Homo sapiens: one gene and its partner. The protein of the gene in region 1 purifies or fractionates together with the protein of each later gene. This does not show direct contact. Each region holds a gene or a part of one and is shown in the gene's direction. Other genes may lie near its edges. The genes, in order: RIT2 and LZTR1.

Region 1 (10,478 bases):
TCACCCTACAAAAGAGAATTCTCATAAAAAATAAAAGAAATAGGTACATCTGGATGTGGTCAGTAGCAAAATGCATATCAAAGTGAAAAAAATTATTCATCTCTTCTAGGGAGGCAAAAATATGAAAGAAAAGCTTTGTAATTGTGTATAAATGAGGAATTTTTAAAAAGCTTTCTCCTCTAAATATAATGATTTGAGAAGGAAGGAATCAAAATAGGTTAGGATTTAAGGAAGGAGGAAGGGATGGAGGAAGGATAGAGACAACATGATCTATATAAAATGAAGTTATACTTTACAAGAATCCAGTCAGATACAGTGAGGAAGAAAGAAATAAACAATGTGAGAATAAAATACTGAAGAAGAGAGAAAAACAGATTTAAAAAAAACAGGCAAAAGACCAATCCACATTAAATGCCACCAGCAGCTTGTGAGGTCAGGGAGATGCTGAAATTGTCGCAATAATGTGCCTCTGTATTGCTTTTGTTTGCTGGTTAGGTATTTGCTTTTAGGAGCTTGGGGGATGTGGGGATAGAGTGACTGATTTTTAGCCTACTTCAATTTATTCCACCTAAATGAAACTTGGAGAAAAGAGATTTTGGACGGGAACATCCTTCAGCAACACACTTTTCTTGTGATATTGCTGATATTATAGTGGTGATATTTTATCTTCTATTTTGATCTCTCCCAAGTATTATTTGTGCTGACAGATCATTGTTACTGTTCCAATGACTATGGATTTTCAATGTGACACATGGCCCACAGAGTGGCCTGGCTTGCTCTCATCTTTGCTTTGTACAATAGAAGTCAATTCATAATTAAGTACTTGAACAAAACTTTTCCTGTGAGATGAAAAGACAGGAATGACCAGCTCATTCTCAGAGAAAGATAAGGATAAGGAGTATAAACAGCTCAGTTGTATTGATTATATATAAATGGCAACCTTGGCTACTACACCAGAGAATATTTCTCATACTACAATTTCACACCTGGAAAATGCTGTCCTTATGACTAAATGTTTGAAATCACAGTGAGAAAATCATCTGGTCCTTGGACTTTCCCCTGTGACTTACCTGATGTTCTTCCATCAGCATATAAACATTCAAGCACTGATTCTTAATATTAACCTTCTATTGAAGGTTAAAATATTTGCTTTCAAATGAGCTAAAAATATACATGGTTTATTTTATCTCATTTGAGCCTAGGCTGGGGTGCAGTGGCATGATCATGGCTCTAAAATATACGTTTTAAAACCTACTTTTCATATCAAAGACTTAGATCAACAGAGGTATATGAAGGGATTGTATAACCCCATTACCCTGGGTTGTGTGAAGAGATTTCCAGAAGAGATCTGCTCTTCTGAAGAAACTAAAGAAGATGCATCAAGCTACCATCTGTTTCCAATTCTGAGAGTCAAGTCCAAGTCAGCCTTAAACATGAATTAAAAACTAAATTTATGGTGACTATAATTTTTAAAATCTTGGAGATTTTTTATGTATATTAATATTTATTCTTTTTTATTTTTCTTTTTGTAGAGATGGGCTCTCACTATGTTGCCCAGGTTGGTCTCAAACTTCTGGCCTCAAGCAATGCTCCTGCCTCAGCCCCCCAAAGTGCTGGGATTATAGGCATGAGCCATTGTGCCTGGCCTGAGAAATGTTTTTGTCCATGTTTTACCAAAATATTTTTTAATAGAAACTTTTAAAAGAATTTGCAACTTTACTGAAATAGGAATTCCCACAAGATTTAAAATATGTCAGTTAATGAATGTACTTTATGTGAGGAATTTTAAACCACAAGTAATCAATAAAGTTTACTGAGCACGTATTATGCACAGTCCTATACTAGTTACTATGAAGGACGTAAACATTTATGAAGCCCCCATTGCATGGCAGGCATGGGCTACATGTATTTCACGCTTATACTCAGTCCTAACCACAGTCAGAGTCGGTATTTCTATTTCACAGATGAAAAAACAGAGGTCAGAAAAATAACTTGTGCCTGGTCATGGGGGTAATAATTTAGAGTTCTGTGATGTTTTATCTAACTCTACTACATTATGTTTAATGCTCTGAGAAGAACAAAGAGTTGCATCACTCACTAGTAAGAAGAAAACAGATCCATTGATAATGCATTTCCTAGGTCTCGAATGTTATATTTAGAAGAGATCTTAACCATCTAGGCTATCACTTTGATTTATACATCTATGCCGCTTTAATCTTTAACCTAATTGAACACTATGCATAATACTTCTGTATAAATATATAATATTAATATTTGTATTTATATTTTTATAATTATATGTAATATTGTCCAAGAATGTTACTAACTGCAGAGAAAACAGGGATACACAAGAATTATTTGGACAATGGCCAAACTGAGGCATTGAGAGGTGAAGAGACCTGCAAAGGTCATTTATACAGCAGTGGCAGAGTCAGATCCAGAATCCAGTCCTTCTGACACCATTGAAGCTGCTTTTCCATCACTCCCCAATTTTTACACAGAGTAAGCTGAATCAAAACTGCACCATACAAAGTAACAGATATGTATACAAAGTAGCAGACATTTAGGAGGAACAAGTATAGAGATCTAATGTATAGGATGAGGACTAGAGGTAATAATATTTTATTTGGGGTTTATGCTAAATTAGTAGATTTTTTTATGTTTATTTGTACATAGTAGGTGTATATATTTTATACATGTATATATTTATGGAGTACATGAGATATTTGGATACAGGCATACAGTGTATAATAATCACATCAGGGTATGGTGTATCCATCACCTCAAACATTCATCATTTATTTGTGTTATAAATCTTCCATTATACTTTTTTGTTATTTTAAAATGTACAATAACTTATTTGTGATGATAATGACCCTGTTGTGCTATCAAATGTTAGATCTTATTCATTCCATCTAACCACAATTTTGTACCCATTAACCATCTCCACTCCCTCTTCCTACTACCCTTTCCAGCCTCTGGTAGCCATCATTCTACTATCTCCATGAATTAAATTGTTTTAATTTTTAACTTCCACAAATGAATGAGACCATGCAAAGTTTGTCTTTCTGTGTCTGGCTTATTTCACTTGACACAATGATCTCCATTTCCATGCATGCTGTTGCAAATGACTGGATCTCATTCTTTTATATAGCTGAATAGTATTCCATTGTGTATATATACCACATTTATTTTATTCATTCTTCTGTTGATGGACACTTAAGTTACTTCCAAATCTTGGCTATTGTTGCTAGTGCTGCATAAATTAGTAGATTTTAGCTGCTGATACTGCCACCCCCTATAAAAAGTAGCTATGTGAAATGATGGATATGCTAATTTGTTTTCCTATAGTAAATATTTTACTATCTATGTGTATCCCACAACATCATATTGTATACCTTAAATATACACAATAAAGTTTATTTTAAAAATAAGACTCATGACGAGAAAACTACTTAAGAAACAACACACATATATATACACACATACACATTCAGTGAAATAACATTAAATGACAGTAGAATAGAAACTTATATTACAAACTGTGATTACAACTAAAACCAAAAGAAAACAACAAAAAAGACAAATTATCCAATAAAGTTCAGTATGTTAGGCATCTTTTAGGCATCTTCTTTTAGCCTTCTATCTCATTTTGTTCCACTGCCCGCCACTCACCCACCCTAAAAAATAAAAATAAAAATAATCTCATGGTTACAGTTTTAAAGTTTTATGGAGCCTAAACAATCCTTATAACAGTTTCAAATATTGACCTTTGTCACTGTGGTTTGAAACAGCAAGGCCGTTCCTCAATGCCAGAGCATGATGAAATATTGTCTTCCTTGGCTTCACATCTGGTTCTCCAAGTTCAGAATCAAATTTATTCAACAGATTTTATTTAATAAAAATAATATCTTATTTTCCAGGTATTTTGGAAAATATCTGCATTTGGGATTTATTCTAAGTTAGTAGGTTTTTATTTTACTGATTTTTTTTATTTTTATGGGTACATAGTGGGTATATATATATATGGAGTTAAGGAAATATTCGTATACAGGCATACACTTAACATAATGATAATGTTTTAAGATTTAAATAATTTAAGATTCATAATGATCATATTTTGCAAAATAAGATATTATCGCATAAAATTGGGGTAAAAATAACATTTTACTTATTCTGATTATGATCTTATTTGATCACAAAGTAAGAAGGCAAGTAGGAGAGGTATCTAAGCACAGAACTATCAAGAGATTTGTCTAGTAGGAAAGTCAGAAAATAAGGACTGGACATGAACACAGGCTTTCTACATCTAAATTGTTTTTCTATCAAATTGTATGGGAAAAGCAGAAAAAGGTTCCCAATGTCAGATGAGAACTTTATGTCCTTCTCTGGTCCCTAGGACACATCTTGGAATTATTTGGTGAAATGTTGTCAACATACATCTTCAAATGTGAAATATGTATGAAACACTATGCAAGTCATTGAGCAGGGAGGGAGTGTTATTCACAACTATGATTTCAGGTGATTCCTGACCTCTGGGAGTGCACCATCTCATGGTGGAAAATTTGCTGTAATGTGTAATACAAAACAATAAGTTTATATTAGGCTTCTGATGTAAGAGCTTTGGAAACTCAGTATAAGGGGTGGCTATAAGAGATGTGAAAGTTGAGAAGAAATCACAGCATAGATGGTATTTAAATTATGTCTTAAAGGATGAGGAGGATTTTTTTGATGCTGAAGAAGAAAAGTATGGGGAGATCCAAGGGAAAGAATTGAACATAAACAGTGTATACAGGGGCACAAAGGGATCTGAAGGCTTATAATTTTTAATGGCAGCATCTTGATAATTTAGTGTCTCTAAGTGGTAGTTGAAAAAATATCTTTTGAGATTTGCTCAATAGATGCTTCAGTTAACTGTGAAAAAGTTACACAACACAAATAAACTGAAAACCCAAAAAGGATTAGGGAACTCAGAATTTATTAGAATGTTTCCATTGTGAATTCTTTGTAAAGAAAAAACTGATTTCTAAAATAAACAAACATATTCTCTCCCACGGCCATGTGCAGTTTGTTGCCTCTGCAAATTCAGTTTCATGTAGCAGGATTTTATAAAGAGAAAGCAGTAACAATATCTCTGAGGTAAACGGAAAGCAGCACACAACCAATTCCTTCCACCTCAGTGAATTAGGAAAGCAGGTAGGAAGTTGAGCCTTTATCTGATGAATTAAATCAAGGCAAGCAACCAAGTGCATCATTCATGTCCCACAGCCTCTGTATTTTACTTCATTAGCAGAACTTTGAGTCTGACAAAGCTCAACAATTGTCACATCGTGGCCATGCGTTATCCTAACCCTGTGGACTGTAAGGCAAAAGAAACAAAATAAACAAGGGGAAAGCAAAAAGATTTTAAGATTCCAGGGCCTTCTGTTCTCACCCTTAATTGTTACCACCTCAGTTGTACTGCAGACCATCACTCACTGCAATACTGTCAGGAAGCATTAGCCAAGAGGTCTAAATAAGGCTCAGTAAAAGAGTAAATTGGTATCTACTCACTCAAATAATGATTGAAAACAGAATTCAGGCGAAAGGCTTTGATTGACAACATCTCCAAGATTATATGCACTCTGTAGATTTTAAATTGATGAAAGAGAGTTTCTACAGCTCTACATGAGTACTATATGATATGTCTGCCCCATCTATGACTGGAGATGAACGAGCATGTAATAATCCCTCAATGAGCCCACATGTTGCTGAGCTCTTTACGTTCACGCATTTGCTTTGGTGTTTTGCTGGCTGATGGTCTGTCACATTCCCTTGCCTTACTATACCCCTCACCCTGCCTTGATCTTGTGAGGAAGGCTTTACTGTCTGCGTTTTATAAGTGAGAAAACTGAGGTACACACACACACACACACACACACGTAATATGGCCCAAGGCACATAGATATTAAATGATGAACCTAATGTGCCTACATATGGATGTCTAAGTTCGATGTTTACATTATTTTTATTTTCTCACCTGAAAGTTTTTATTTTTTGAAGACATGATACAGTGAACCTGAGTTCTAACTTCAGCTGCATTTTTTTTTTTTTTGAGATGGAGTCTCGTTCTATCACTCAGGCTGGAGTGCACTGGTGCAATCTCGGCTCACTGCAAGCTCTGCCTCCTGGGTTCACACCATTATCCTGCCTCAGCCTCCCCGAATAACTGGGACTACAGTCACCCGCCACCATGCCCGGTTAATTTTTTTTTTTTTTTTTGTATTTTTAGTAGAGACGGGGTATCACCGTGTTAGCCAGGATGGTCTCGATCTCCTGACCTCGTCATCCACCCGCCTCGGACTTCCAAAGGGCTGGGGTTACAGGCGTGAGCCACTGCACCCGGCCACATTTTCATGCATGTATTTTAAACATCACACAAAATCGTCTATATGAAAATATTTTAATATTTTTAATTTTCTACACAAACAACGGAGAGTGCTACGCTTATTAGATGGGGTAGTGAGTGGCATGAGGAGCTCTGACTAAACAATTTAGCATGGAGGTGCCAAAGACTGGTTTGTTCTTGTCTATTCAGAGACCCCTGGGGGCCTCAACCACATAGAGAGAAGGTGACAATTCCTTTCAACTTGAGAAAACCAAGTAACCCAGTAATTATAGGAATTTATTGAAACCTGGGATCATGCAAACAAAGAAAGTAAACAGGGTGCTGAGTAAACCATACCGATTTTTGAAATTAGGTGCTGATTTGCTTAGGGAAGCATACTTTCTTTAAACATATACATTTTGGAATAATTAATAGAAACTGACAAAAGAGTGTTTGTGTGTGTATGCGTGCACGCACGCGTGCACGCCTAGACCTGTGAAAAGCCCACAGATATGACCAAGAATTAGACACAGCCTCTGCCCTGTCCACCAGGGTAACAAACAAGATGTATAAACAGACTTGTGAGGCAATGATAGAGATGCATGGGAGGTATTTTGGAAGCAATGAGAACTATGGCTTAGAAAGATAAAATGACCTACCATACATTGTTCAGCTGTTCATCTGTAGCGTTGGGACTAGAGTCTCCTGACTTTCTAGAGCATGAATTTTTCCAATAGGCCATTTTGCCTCCCATAAACCAGCATAAAATCTCACTGGAGATCAACCTGCTGCCTATGACCGATTATTTCTGTGCGTGTGTGTGTTTGCAGTGTGGTGGGATTGCGACTGTACACATTGACAGACGGTGGTCCTCTGTACTGCTCACAGACATGGAAGGTGCACTTTTATCAATGAATCTGGCTATTTGCAAAGCCCATCAATGATATCTACTCAATCACTTGGGCTTTCCTCATAAATAAATACCAGCTTTCTGGTGACCCTGACCAAACAGTGCTACCTGTCCTTCTCATTGCTCAGCAGGGACCAGCTAAGTGCCATTGCTAGTCACTCTGCCAGACCATCATTTCTGCCCTTTCTGCCTACTATAATTCTACTTCAGCTAACACCACAGCTTCAGCGTGAGAGTATTGATAGTTCTGGTCCCCAAATACTCCAAGCATTTCAGCATCCTGCCACTGCCATGTGTATTGGGCAGATAGAAACCTGATTCTTCCTAAAGTATGCATGAAGGATGTAAAGCCGAAGGGGGAGTGGGGGACTGGGGCCTCCCTGGAGATGTTGCATTGAAAAGGAAATCAGAGAGAAAACTATATTTGCAGTCCCAGGAAAAAATCTTTAATTGAACTGAAATGAGATAGTGTAGATAATTTGTGGTCTTACAATGGAACGCCGAATAAAGATTTTTAACAATTATAGTTAGAGAAGTTGTGGTGGTGGTGGATGAGGGAAGTTCTTTATCAGAAGATTTCTTGTATATGTGAAAATCAATGTTTGGGTAGTCACTTATTGAATGAATCAGAAGTCCTTAGACACTTTACCAGTTCACATTTCCTCTTAATATGCTTTAAAATGAGCAATAAAGTGTGTGTTTGTGTTCATAAATCTGCGTGCATTCACAAAAGAGGAATGTTTCTTGTTTTGTCCAAACTATTATTCTTTCAATTTCTTCCTGCAATGAATGGCAAAATAAAAGTGAACACTTCTGAGTTTTGCATATACCTGACCCTGTTCAAAATGCACTAAATATGTTAATTTATTAAGTCTCACTAAACCCAGAAGTGTGGGTGTGGTTAATATCTCTAATTAATAGATGAGAACAATAAAGCTTGAAGATGGTGAGTAATTCACTCAGGAACCCAGAGCCTGAGGTGACTATGCAGGACTCAACCACTGCCAGAGCTGAGGCCCTTAACCACTGTCCACTGTGCTCGTTACCATATATTATTTTGATCAACCTTCAATCTGTAGAATGAAGCCCTACCATAGAAGTGATGACAGAATAATGTGAACTGGGGGTTTGGGTAACCCAGGAAATCCATATTTGTCTTTTCTCATCTGTAAAATGGGGATGACAATAATAACTACTGTAACGGTTCATACTCAGAATATTAATTACATAGCCTGGCACAAACTGTGGGACAAAGTTTATAACGTAAATGGATAGCTTTGTTTTTATTTATTTACCCTTAACAACACTTGACGTTGCACAGGTCACTTAAGCTCTTTGAGTCTCCCTTTTCCTCATTAAGGGCTTTAATTAAAATATCCTCAGAGAATTGCTGGGTAGATGACATTGGAAAATACTAAATAAAAACTATAGATTATATTGCCCAATATTACACCTTCATTAAAACTGCTCATTCCCTCCCTCCCTCCCTCCCTTTCTTCCTCCCTTCCTCCCTTCCTCTCTTCCTCCCTTCCTCCCTTCCTTTTTTTGTTCCTTCCTTCCATGCCTCCACCTAAGGCAGTTTACCTCTGTAACATAGGGAAGAGTAGTGACACATATTTCAGATAGGTCCTAGGAAAATACAATTTGGGTTGAATATTGTAAAACTGCCATTGTATATGCACCTGCTCTATTCTTGTTCTTGCTCTCTAGATCCTTATATTGATTAGTTTCTGCTTTGGTCTCCTGAGTGGTAATTTCAGTGACAGTAATAAAAGTAGTTTACTAGTTACCTTAGTAAACAATCCCTTTATTCATCCTAATTGACCCATACCACACACAAACACACACACACACACACAAACACACACACACACACACACACACACACACAGCACACTGCCTGTTAGAGAAAGGACTGGAGGACAATTGCCTGCTACAATAGCCCACAAAGGGCCTGATTAGAGGGGCTATGGCTTTTAACAGAGCATGCCTCTGCTTGAATCCAGACTGAAATTAATTTTTCCAATTTGTGTATTGTTTTAATAAATTTTGAGTAATATGACATGTCTTCCATTCTCCATAGTAGCAACACTGAACATTTAAAGGGAAAGAGTCATATTTAATGGTTGCAGGAAAAGCTAATAATAAGCTACATGGATACAGATTTTTGTTTAATTGAAGAAATCAGGCTCTTTATTTGGTAGCAAAAGGGCACATCTTTTATTTGAAATTGTAAAAACTTCAGCTAATTGGTTCCTGCCTATTATATTTATTTATTTATTTATTTACTGTTTAGAAATATTTCATACTTTATTCCAATATAATTATCTTAGGACTGAAATCAGTGGAAAAATATTAGGGATTTTATATTGGCAAATTCTGAGTAACAGAAGTCTGGAATACCTCAGCATCTTTTTTTTTCCCTTTCATTTTTAGTTGACAAGTAATAATCATATGTATTTATGTGTTATTTTCATAGGTGTATACAATGTATAATGATCAAATAATGGTAATTAGGATATCTATCACCTCAAACATTTATTACTTCTTTGTGCTGTGAACATTAAAATCCTCTCTAACTTTTTGAAAATACACAATAAATTATAGCCAACCACATTCATTATATAGCGCTGTGGAACACCAGAACTCATTCCTCCCATCTAGCTGTGATTTTGTATCTGTTAACCAAACTCTCCCCATCCTACCCTCCCTCTCTCTTCCCAGCCTCTAATGACCACAGTTCTACTTCTATATCAACTTTTTTAGATTTCATTTACAAGTGAGAACTTTTGGTATTTATCTTTCTATGCCTGATTTAGTTTACTTAACGTTATGTCCTCCAGGTTCATCCATGTTGTGGCAAATGACAGGATTTCATTCTTTTTTCATGTCTGAATAGCATTCCATTGTGTATGTATATGACATTTCCTTTATCCATTTATCTGTTGATGGGCGTTCCGTTGTATTCCATATCTCAGTTACTGTGCGTAGTGGTGCAATAAACTTGGGGGTGTAGGTATCCTTTTGATATACTGACTCCTTTTTCTTTAGATAAATACCCAGTAGTGGGATTTCTTCTATCATCTTTTAAACCCCCATATCCCACTCTTACCTGCTCTTCATACCACTTCATACCACCGTCCTGAAATACCATTTTGATTCTTCTCCTCCCCAAACAACTAAGATATCTTACTTTATTCC
Region 2 (9,099 bases), on another chromosome or scaffold:
GAAGTCCCGAGATGTGTTTGGCCTGGACTTTGGCACCACCTCAGCCAAGCAGCCCACCCAGCCTGCCTCGGAGGTACAGGCTGGGATCCTCATTAAGACTCCATCACCCCCTGAAACAGGTCCTGTGATCAACACCTCTCACACATGGGGAGACTGAGGCCCCGAGAAATACTTGCTTGGGGTCACACCACAAAGGGGGTACAGGGCCAAGGGCCCTCACCCTGCTGGCCAGGCTGCAGCTTTCTGGGGTGGGTGCCACACACTGGCCCAAGTGCCCTGACCACTCTGAGGGTCTCCATGGCCCGTCATGCCCCACTCGCCTACATGGGTACCAGGTCCCACCTGTGTCTGTACCCAGGGGCCCTCATCCCTTGGGGACCCTGCCCCCTGGCCCTTCATGGCCATGAGGTGCCGCATCCTTGCCTTACCTGGCTGCACCAGCCGCACTGTGGAGGCTCTGCTCCCCCACCATTCCACCCTGCCTTCTTGTCCCCCAGCTGCCCAGTGGGAGGCTCTTCCACGCGGCTGCTGTCATCTCGGACGCCATGTACATCTTCGGGGGCACGGTGGACAACAACATCCGCAGCGGGGAGATGTACAGGTTCCAGGTGTGGGGCCTGTGGGCCTGTAGAGCCGGCTGGGTGGACGGATCCCCCGTGATGAGAAACTGAGGCCAAGTTGGGGGGCAGGGCTTATCCAGGCCATTGCCAGGGCCACACCTGGCAGGATGGAAGCCTTGGGAGGAGCCCTGTGGGCTGAGGGTGGGCTGAGGTGGCACTAAAGTGGGCAGCCTTCGTGCAGTGGGGCAGGCAGATGGTGCTGGGGCTCACGGCAGAGTCAGTGGAGGGAGCCGGGCCAAGCTGGGCTCAGCACCAGAGCCTCACAGGCATCATAGCCTGGCCCAGGGCAGAGCCAGGGCCGACAGTGGCTTGCGTTGACAGCCCCTTCCCAGGCCTGGAGGAGCAGGTGGTCAGGGCAGGGACTCACAGCCACAGTGAGGTCAGGGCCAGCTTCCTGGAGGAGGTTGGGATGTGCTGGTGGGGGCCAGTGTGAGGACGCAGGTCCAGGCAGAGTGGAGACGGCAGAGCTCTGCTGAGGCCTGGGGCCCAGCCGAAGGCAAGAGAGGCAGGGGAGCCCTTTCCTGCTGTGGAGCCGGCCGTGGACAGTTGCAGGTGCTGAGGCTGGAGCCAGGCTGTATTTTCAGGGTGGGGTAGCGGCTGCTTCCTCTCCTCAGCCAGGCCCACCTGCCTCCTGGGCCCTGAGGGTCAGCATGGGCCAGGTGGGGACCTCAGGGTCGGCCTGCACAGCCACACTGGGGCCACCCTGCTGTCTGCAACATCTAGTCTCACTGGGCCCCTCTTGCAGTTCTCCTGTTACCCTAAATGCACGCTGCACGAGGACTACGGGCGGCTGTGGGAGAGCCGCCAGTTCTGCGACGTGGAGTTCGTGCTGGGTGAGGTGGGTGCCTGTCCTCGCACCCTGCTCTGCCTGCTGTGCCTGGGCAGTGGGAATTTCGCCCCTCAGAAAAACAGCTGCTGGCCTGGTGGTGCTGACCTTGGCTGGCTGGGTCTCTGTTCTCTGGGGCGAGGGTCCTGTGCCCTCTGCCAGTGCATCATTCTTTGTGCAGAAGGAGGAGTGCGTGCAGGGCCACGTAGCCATTGTCACAGCGCGGAGCCGCTGGCTTCGCAGGAAGATCACGCAGGCGCGGGAGAGGCTGGCCCAGGTGAGGTGCCTAACCGCCCTGCCCTGACCTGGCAGCCATGCCTGGTGTCCACTGGGGTGTCCTTGAGCTCCCTTCTCCCCACAGAAGCTGGAGCAGGAGGCCGCCCCAGTTCCCAGGGAGGCCCCCGGCGTGGCTGCTGGTGGGGCCCGGCCGCCCCTGCTGCACGTGGCCATCCGGGAGGCCGAGGCCCGGCCCTTCGAGGTGCTCATGCAGTTCCTCTACACCGACAAGATCAAATACCCACGGAAAGGTCCGCCTGGGTGGGGGTGGAGCAGGGTTGGTGTGGGCTGGGGTGCGGGCAGCAGAGCCAAAAGGTGGGTGCTGCCAGCCCTGCCTTACTGATGGGCCCCCTGAGGCTCAGAGGCTGCAGGTCACCCTCCTTACCCATGATCACTGCAGCTGGACGCCATCTGAGTCCCCCGAGGCCTTGTTCCTACCTAGTGGCCCCAGCCCACACTCTTCCATGGGGGGAGCCCTGCGCCCTGTGCCCTGCCCTCCCCTCTCCGGCTCCCTGAGATTCGGGGGCTCTGGGGCGCAGGCCATGTGGAGGATGTGCTGCTCATCATGGATGTGTACAAACTGGCACTGAGCTTCCAGTTGTGCCGCCTGGAGCAGCTGTGCCGCCAGTACATCGAGGCCTCCGTGGACCTGCAGAACGTGCTGGTTGTGTGCGAGAGTGCCGCCCGGCTGCAGCTGAGCCAACTCAAGGTGTGGGGTGGGGTCAGCGCAATCAGGGTTGGGTGGGGTGTGCTCAGGCTTAGGCCCCCTCCCTGCCCACCACTGTGAGCCCCTCGCCCAGCCTGGGGCCCTGGCTTGACTCTGCCTGCCTGCCTGTGCCTGTCTGCCCCAGGAGCACTGCCTGAACTTCGTGGTAAAGGAGTCCCACTTCAACCAGGTGATCATGATGAAGGAGTTCGAGCGCCTCTCCTCTCCACTGATAGTGGAGATTGTGCGGCGGAAGCAGCAGCCGCCCCCTCGCACTCCCTTGGACCAGCCAGTGGACATTGGTAGGGAGCCCCGTTCCCCTTCCCTGGGGGCTGGGAGGGATGGTGTTCATCTGCGGTAGGAGATTGGGAGCCATGGAGAGCACCTGCCAGGCCCTCGGGGTGGGGGTGGGTGCCATGGGACCCCAGAGTGCTCTCCTGGGTACAGGGAGGAAACAGATGAAGGCAGAAGCCCCCGACCCATGGGGCTTGCCACAGTGGGCTGTGTCCTGGTGACCTGGGATTTCCTGAGCCAATTTCTGGGGGTGGACATGGGGCACCTCTTTCGGGCTAGGATGTCAGGTCTGATGGCCCAGGGTCACGGTGATCAGTCTCTGGACTTCTCTTTGCTTGTAATGTCACAGGCCCCTTCATTCCCCCAGCTCTCCCTGGGGCTTGTGCTGACCCCGGTTGCTGGCTCTTGGTGATGTCTGCAGGCACCAGAGGCCATGCAGTGGGCCTGGAGGGGGCTTGATCATGAGGTCAGCGAGGGGGTACAGCAAGCTGGGTGGAAGATGAGACGCTGGGTGGTGGGCTGTGCGTGGGGCATAGTGCTTGAGTCGGCCAGGGCGCCGAGGGAGGACAGAATGTGGCTGATGGTACCTCAGGGCGAGTGAGGCCTTCTGCCTGGGTGAAGTTTTGTTCAGGGCAGCAACATGGGCAGATATGCAGGAAGGTAGTGCCGTGGGGCCCCAAGGCCAGAATCCCAGGCTGTACCTGCTCAGGGACCCTCCTACCCCCAGGCACATCTCTGATCCAGGACATGAAGGCATACCTGGAGGGAGCGGGCGCGGAATTCTGTGACATCACTCTGTTGCTTGACGGGCACCCACGGCCAGCCCACAAGGCTATCCTGGCCGCCCGCTCCAGGTGGGTGGGGGCTGGACAGGAGGGGAGGGTGGGCCTGGATGGTGTCTTCGTTCTGCTGACGGCCAGGTGCCTACCGCTCGTTGTCTGCAGCTACTTTGAAGCCATGTTCCGGTCCTTCATGCCCGAAGATGGGCAGGTGAACATCTCCATCGGGGAGATGGTGCCCAGCAGGCAGGCCTTCGAGTCCATGCTGCGCTACATCTACTACGGCGAGGTCAACATGCCGCCCGAGGACTCGCTGCATCCTCACTCCCCAGTGAACTCCCAGGTCCCCACCAAGGGGTCCTGGCACCCACCTCAGGTGGCTTTGAGGCCCGCTCTCCTGCCCCAGCTAGGTGATCTGGGCCCAGCGCCTCCCTCCAGAGGGTTTGCTGGTGCCTGGGGCTGGGCCTGGTGCTCTCTGAAGCAGTTGGCAGCTGGCAAGGAGGGGTTTGCAGCCAGGAGGAACCAGTGGGTTCCTGACCCTCACAACTGCCCAGAGGACGGGGTGGGTCATTGCTTTGTGTGACAGTTGAGCACAGACATGGAGGTACTCCTTATGTCACTTCAGTAGGGGTCTGAACATGGAGGGTCAGGATGCCTGTTAGGCCTGCAAGGCCATGGAACAGCGCTACAGATGTACAGACACTATTTTTCTCGGGAGGGGATTCATGGTTTTCTTTGGATCCTGAATGGGGCCTTTGACCCACTAAGTAGTTCAGAATCCATTTGGAGAGCATGCTGGCGTGGGGGCTTGGGGCTCCAGCTGCGCCCTTCCCTGTCCTTCCCTGGGAGGGTGCGGGCGGACCAGCTTCCTTTAGTCAGCTCCTTAACCAGGCCCCAGCTACTTGTTTGCGGCCCCCTACTACTACGGCTTCTACAACAACCGGCTGCAGGCGTACTGCAAGCAGAACCTGGAGATGAACGTGACGGTGCAGAACGTGCTGCAGGTAGCCCCCCAGCCCCGTGCACATGGCTGCAGCTCCCACTGAGTGGGTGAAAGGGGCAGCGCCTCAAGGTCCCTGCCATTGCAGATCCTGGAGGCAGCTGACAAAACGCAGGCACTGGACATGAAGCGGCACTGCCTGCACATCATTGTGCACCAGTTCACCAAGGTCAGGGCTCTGGCCTCCCCTTCAGGACTCGCTTCCCCTTGGCAGTGGCCATGCCCAGGCAGGGAGGGTGCCCAGGCTCTGTGGTCCCCTGCAGTGGTGGGCCCTGGGGGTGAGAGAAGCAGAGCAGCCCATCACTGGCCGCACCTTGCTTCATCCTTGGGACCAGCCTGAGCCCTGAGCAGGGTAGGCCCCACAGGGCTCCACTGCCCACCATGGCCCTTAGGTGGATCTGGTCCCATCTCCTTCCGGCCTGCTTGCCTTACAGGTCTCCAAGTTGCCCACCCTGCGGTCGCTGAGCCAGCAGCTGCTGCTGGACATCATAGACTCCCTGGCCTCCCACATCTCAGACAAGCAGTGCGCAGAGCTGGGCGCCGACATCTGAGGCCCTGTGGCGCCTGCCCATTGTGAAGAATCGCCGTGCCTGCCTGCCCTGCCTACTGAGAAGACTACCGGCTATGCGCATGCCTATGGCAGTGGGTGCACCTGCCAGGCCAAGGGTCAGGGTGCCCAGAGCCTCCAAAGAGAGCTGAGGGGATGTGGGGCCCCAAACTCATTAATTCACTGAAGACACAGGTCCCACAGGGAGCGGATGATGAAGCAGACCCCCTCCTGTCATCACCCTCTCCTGGTGTAGTGTGGATGCGAGGCCACGGCTCAGTGATGGGCTCACCACCCAGAAGTGGGGAGAGACTTTGGGCCTCCCACCCAGTGGGGCTTGGCCTGGCTTCTGTGGCCTGGGCGTGTTGTGGACTCAGGCACTGGGGCCTGTCACCAAGGCTCCTCCAACATGCGGGAGGAGGCTTAGCAGACTTGCGCTGCACCAGCGAATCTGCCTGGGCTGCTCCTGTCCCACCCACCCTCACTGAGATCCATGTAAGGGGCTCCTCTTCCCACCTGGAACTTGTGAGTGGGGACCCATGATGTATGGGTCTCACCTGACTTGAGGTGAATTTTGGAGTGAAGGGCCCTGAGGTCAGCTCCCAGGTCGGTCGTGCTGGGCCAGGCCTGGTTTTCACAGGGGCTGAAGGATCCCAGTCCACCTGTGTGCATGTCAGGGCTCGGCCGGGAAGAAGCCAGCAAAGTCCCCCGTGTCCCTTGCTGAGTATTCTGTCACAGACAAGCCTCCATTAAAGCCACAGCAGTGCTACCCACCACACACACCTTGCTGGCCCGGCCACCACTGCTGGCTTCAGCCCCTTGAGCAGCCCATGGCTTAGCAGACCCCCAGATGTAGGTCAGTGGCCTTACCTGTCTCTATCCATGCTGTCAACTCCTGCCTCCACCTGGGGTCACCCAGTCACATTGGGAAGGGCTGTGAAGGCCTCCAGGCTGGCCCCTTCCAGGGGAATCCTGGAGGCCTGGGGTGGGCTCCTGCCCCTTCTGCCCTGCCTTGCCCCTGCACTATGCTCTTGGCTCCTGTGGAAGGAGGGCTGCCCTCTTGCCCTAGTGAGGGCCCCATGTGGATCCACTCTAGTGCTGGGAGCCAGCGCTCCCTTACTGGGAACAGGATTCCAGGACCCCTTTCTTGTTGTGGCTGCCATGAAGCCACAGCTCCTTGGGGAAGTGACCTGCTCTCCTTTGGGTGTATGCAGGTGTGTGGGGGGCCCTGAGTGGCAAGTTGCTTAGCTAACAGGAGATCCATAGGCAGCCTGCAGGCTAGGAAGTGGCCTAGTGCAAGATGAGCTGGGAACAAGGGAGGAGAGAGCAGGAGCTGGGGCAGAGGCTGAGCCGGGAGGCCCTTGAGGTGAGGACACAGCAGGCCCAGGACCATGGCTGGGGAGGATATGTCAGCACCTGGAAGTGGAGTGCAGGCTGCAGCGCCCAGCCATGTGGGCCAGGTGCATTCACTCAGAGTGGGGCCACACACCCATCTACCCAGTTTCCACAAGATGTGGCTCCTGCCACACCCACAGGGCAGCCTCCTCCAAATCCCTCCTGGAGGGGCCTACCCAGAAGCCTCCTTGAACCAGTCTGCAACCCTGCTCTATGCTGACCCTTGTCACTGAACCCTGATCTAGACTTATATGAATAAATGAAATTACATGCCAAGGGCCCTAAAAAGCAAATTTTACGAAATTGTGTGGCAGTTTCTGGGACTAGAATGAATTTCATTTGTGCTCCTCGGCAGGGAGAGGCCATACTTGCAGTGAGTCACCCCAAGACGGAGCTGTTTGAGAACTGCAGCTGCAGCAAGGCCTTCCAGGTTCCTGGGAGTTGAAGGAAAAGGATGCTGAGGCCAGGACCTGAGTGCTTGTCTCCATGTTCTGGCCACCTCTTCCTAGATTTCCAGGGACTAGCTTGTTGGGGCTTTACTACCTGCTGACATGACCCAGGAGGTTGATGATTGTCATCATCATCCCCGTTTTTCAAATAGAGATGGTAGTGAAGGGGGCGGGGAGAGGGTTGTCCAGCTTACCCACCAGGCTGATGGGGCCTGTGGACAGAAGCCTGTCATGCTCCTGCTTGAGAACCGGATCTAGACTGGGTTTTAGAAGTGTTCTCAAAGGGGCTGGCTGGTTTAAGTCAGGGCTGTTTCAGATCCTATGGAAAGGGCGCCTGGAGCTGTCTTCCTGGCCCCTACTCACACCATCCTGCCCCTTCAGAGAACCCTGTGGGGCACGGAGCTGCGCTAGCAGGGCTGACTGCCACCTGTCTACCAGTAGCTCTGAGGGGTGAGAGCCAGGCTCCCTGTTCTCCTTGGCAAAGAGCTTGGACTGAGCCCTCTAGGAGCTGCAGCCACTGTCTGGGGCAGCAAGCTTAGTACTCAGAGGGGCTCCAGCCCCCAGCTGAGCCAGACAGCAGGCCCTCCGTCTAGAATCCGCTTTATTATGGCACCTGGTGGGTCTGGTGGGATCTGAGGGAGGAAGAGGCTGCAGTCTTGCTGGGCAGCCCCTCGGTCAGTCCAGCAGCCCCTCAGGCCATGCTGCTGCTCAGCTGCATGGCAAAGTCCTGCACATGCTCCTTCAGAGTCTGGCGGGCATCTGCCTGTGCCCGCTTCTCCCGTGCCCGCTCCTGCTGCAGCTTGGTCAGTCTCAACCGCAGCCGCTGCTCCCGCCGCTTGCAGGCCTGCAGCTGGCGCTGGGCCTTGTCAAGGGCATCAAGGGCTGCCTCGGCTCGCCGCTTCCAGAGTAAGGCGCTGCCCACCTGGTAGCTGTGTTCATTCTGGATGTAGGCTCCGGCGGGTGGGGGCAGGCGCAGCATATACGCTGAGGGGGAGACTGGCCGTGGTTCGAGAGGGGAGGGCTGCCGCTCTGGTGAAGGCTGGGCGCTGCAGCCTGCTTCATCTGCCTGGGCACCCAAGGGGCCCAGTAGGTCTGAAAAGGGGCTGCTAAGGCCAGGCTCCAGCCTCCCAGCTGGGGAGGCCGGCAAAGTGGCAGGTGCTGAGGCCTCTTCCACAGGAAAGCAGGTGACATCAGCAGGTGGAGGTGGAGAAAATGGAGTTGTGGGCCCTCGGCCCTCGGAGCAGCTGGTAAGGGGGAAGAGAGAGACTGATGGGCTAGGCTGAGGGCTTGCCAGACCCCCCTCCACCAGCCCACCTGATCCACCCTTAACACCCAAACCCGATCCACAGGTTCTGTGTAGCAAGAACCCTGTCCAGCGAGACTGCTGGCAGACACCCCTAGGGCCCAGTCCCTCAGCCTAGGGGTGGGAGTGGGGCATCCCCCACCCATATCACATACCGCTTCCTGCATCGTCTGAGCCGGCTGACTTCAGCGGGGCCAGGTGGGTAACTGTGTCCTTTGGTCTTGGTTGTCCGGCGCAACTTGGAGAAAGACTCAAATATGGTGGGGACTGCCCCCTCCTTTAGCCTGTGATATCCACTGCGGGGAAAAGCAACCCAGATGAGCTGGAGAGCAAGTGCTGCCTCCCCAGGCCAATCTGCCCCCAGCAGCAGCGCCGTGGGATGCTGGAAGGCATCGTGCAAACAATACGTCTGGGGAACGCCAAGTTACAGCTACACCAATCGCTTCCCCGCAGGACTCCTCACAGTCCAGGTGTGTGGAAAGCCTGCATAAGCCGAGCTGGGCTGACCAGCCAGAAAGAATTCTTTGATTTGTGGACTTGCTGGCAAGACTGGGGCTCTGAAAGATACTCTCTGGAAAGGCTCCTGTTTTCCCCTTGTGTCACAGGCACAGTGATCCTGGGGGTGGGTTTCACTGTGCAGAGCTGGGAACAGGAAACAGCCCCCTTGGACGCAGGCTGCTCAAGGGACTTCCATGACCTGCAGCTGTCCCAGTCCGCCGGGAGCCCCACATCCTACCCCAGCGTCGGCCGGCAGGGAGGCCCACCTGATTCCCACCAGCTCAAAGCAGTCCTCCTCAAAGTGTTTGGAGCAGAAGTAGATGTACTCGGATGCCGGGTCCCACAGGCCCTGGCCGCTGGGGTCCAGCCGCTGGCAGTTGGCCAGCCACAAGCCTCGCCTCGGGTT

What was found.
Region 2: the proteins of RIT2 (region 1) and LZTR1 purify together in Homo sapiens (affinity purification with mass spectrometry; 3 studies listed by BioGRID and IntAct, with this or other methods). This does not show direct contact.

What each region holds. Positions count from the first base shown.
Region 1 is NC_000018.10:43,103,791-43,114,268, reverse strand, and holds part of RIT2 (GTP-binding protein Rit2), read left to right. Parts: intron 1-10,478.
Region 2 is NC_000022.11:20,992,297-21,001,395, forward strand, and holds the end of LZTR1 (leucine-zipper-like transcriptional regulator 1), read left to right. Parts: coding exon 1-73; intron 74-497; coding exon 498-608; intron 609-1,365; coding exon 1,366-1,458; intron 1,459-1,627; coding exon 1,628-1,723; intron 1,724-1,807; coding exon 1,808-1,973; intron 1,974-2,261; coding exon 2,262-2,431; intron 2,432-2,573; coding exon 2,574-2,730; intron 2,731-3,449; coding exon 3,450-3,576; intron 3,577-3,666; coding exon 3,667-3,816; intron 3,817-4,399; coding exon 4,400-4,505; intron 4,506-4,589; coding exon 4,590-4,670; intron 4,671-4,935; coding exon 4,936-5,052; 3' UTR 5,053-6,736; downstream 6,737-9,099. Other genes in the region: THAP7 (THAP domain-containing protein 7), read right to left, coding at 7,584-8,136, 8,351-8,491, 8,960-9,099. UniProt on the Homo sapiens protein: Substrate-specific adapter of a BCR (BTB-CUL3-RBX1) E3 ubiquitin-protein ligase complex that mediates ubiquitination of Ras (K-Ras/KRAS, N-Ras/NRAS and H-Ras/HRAS).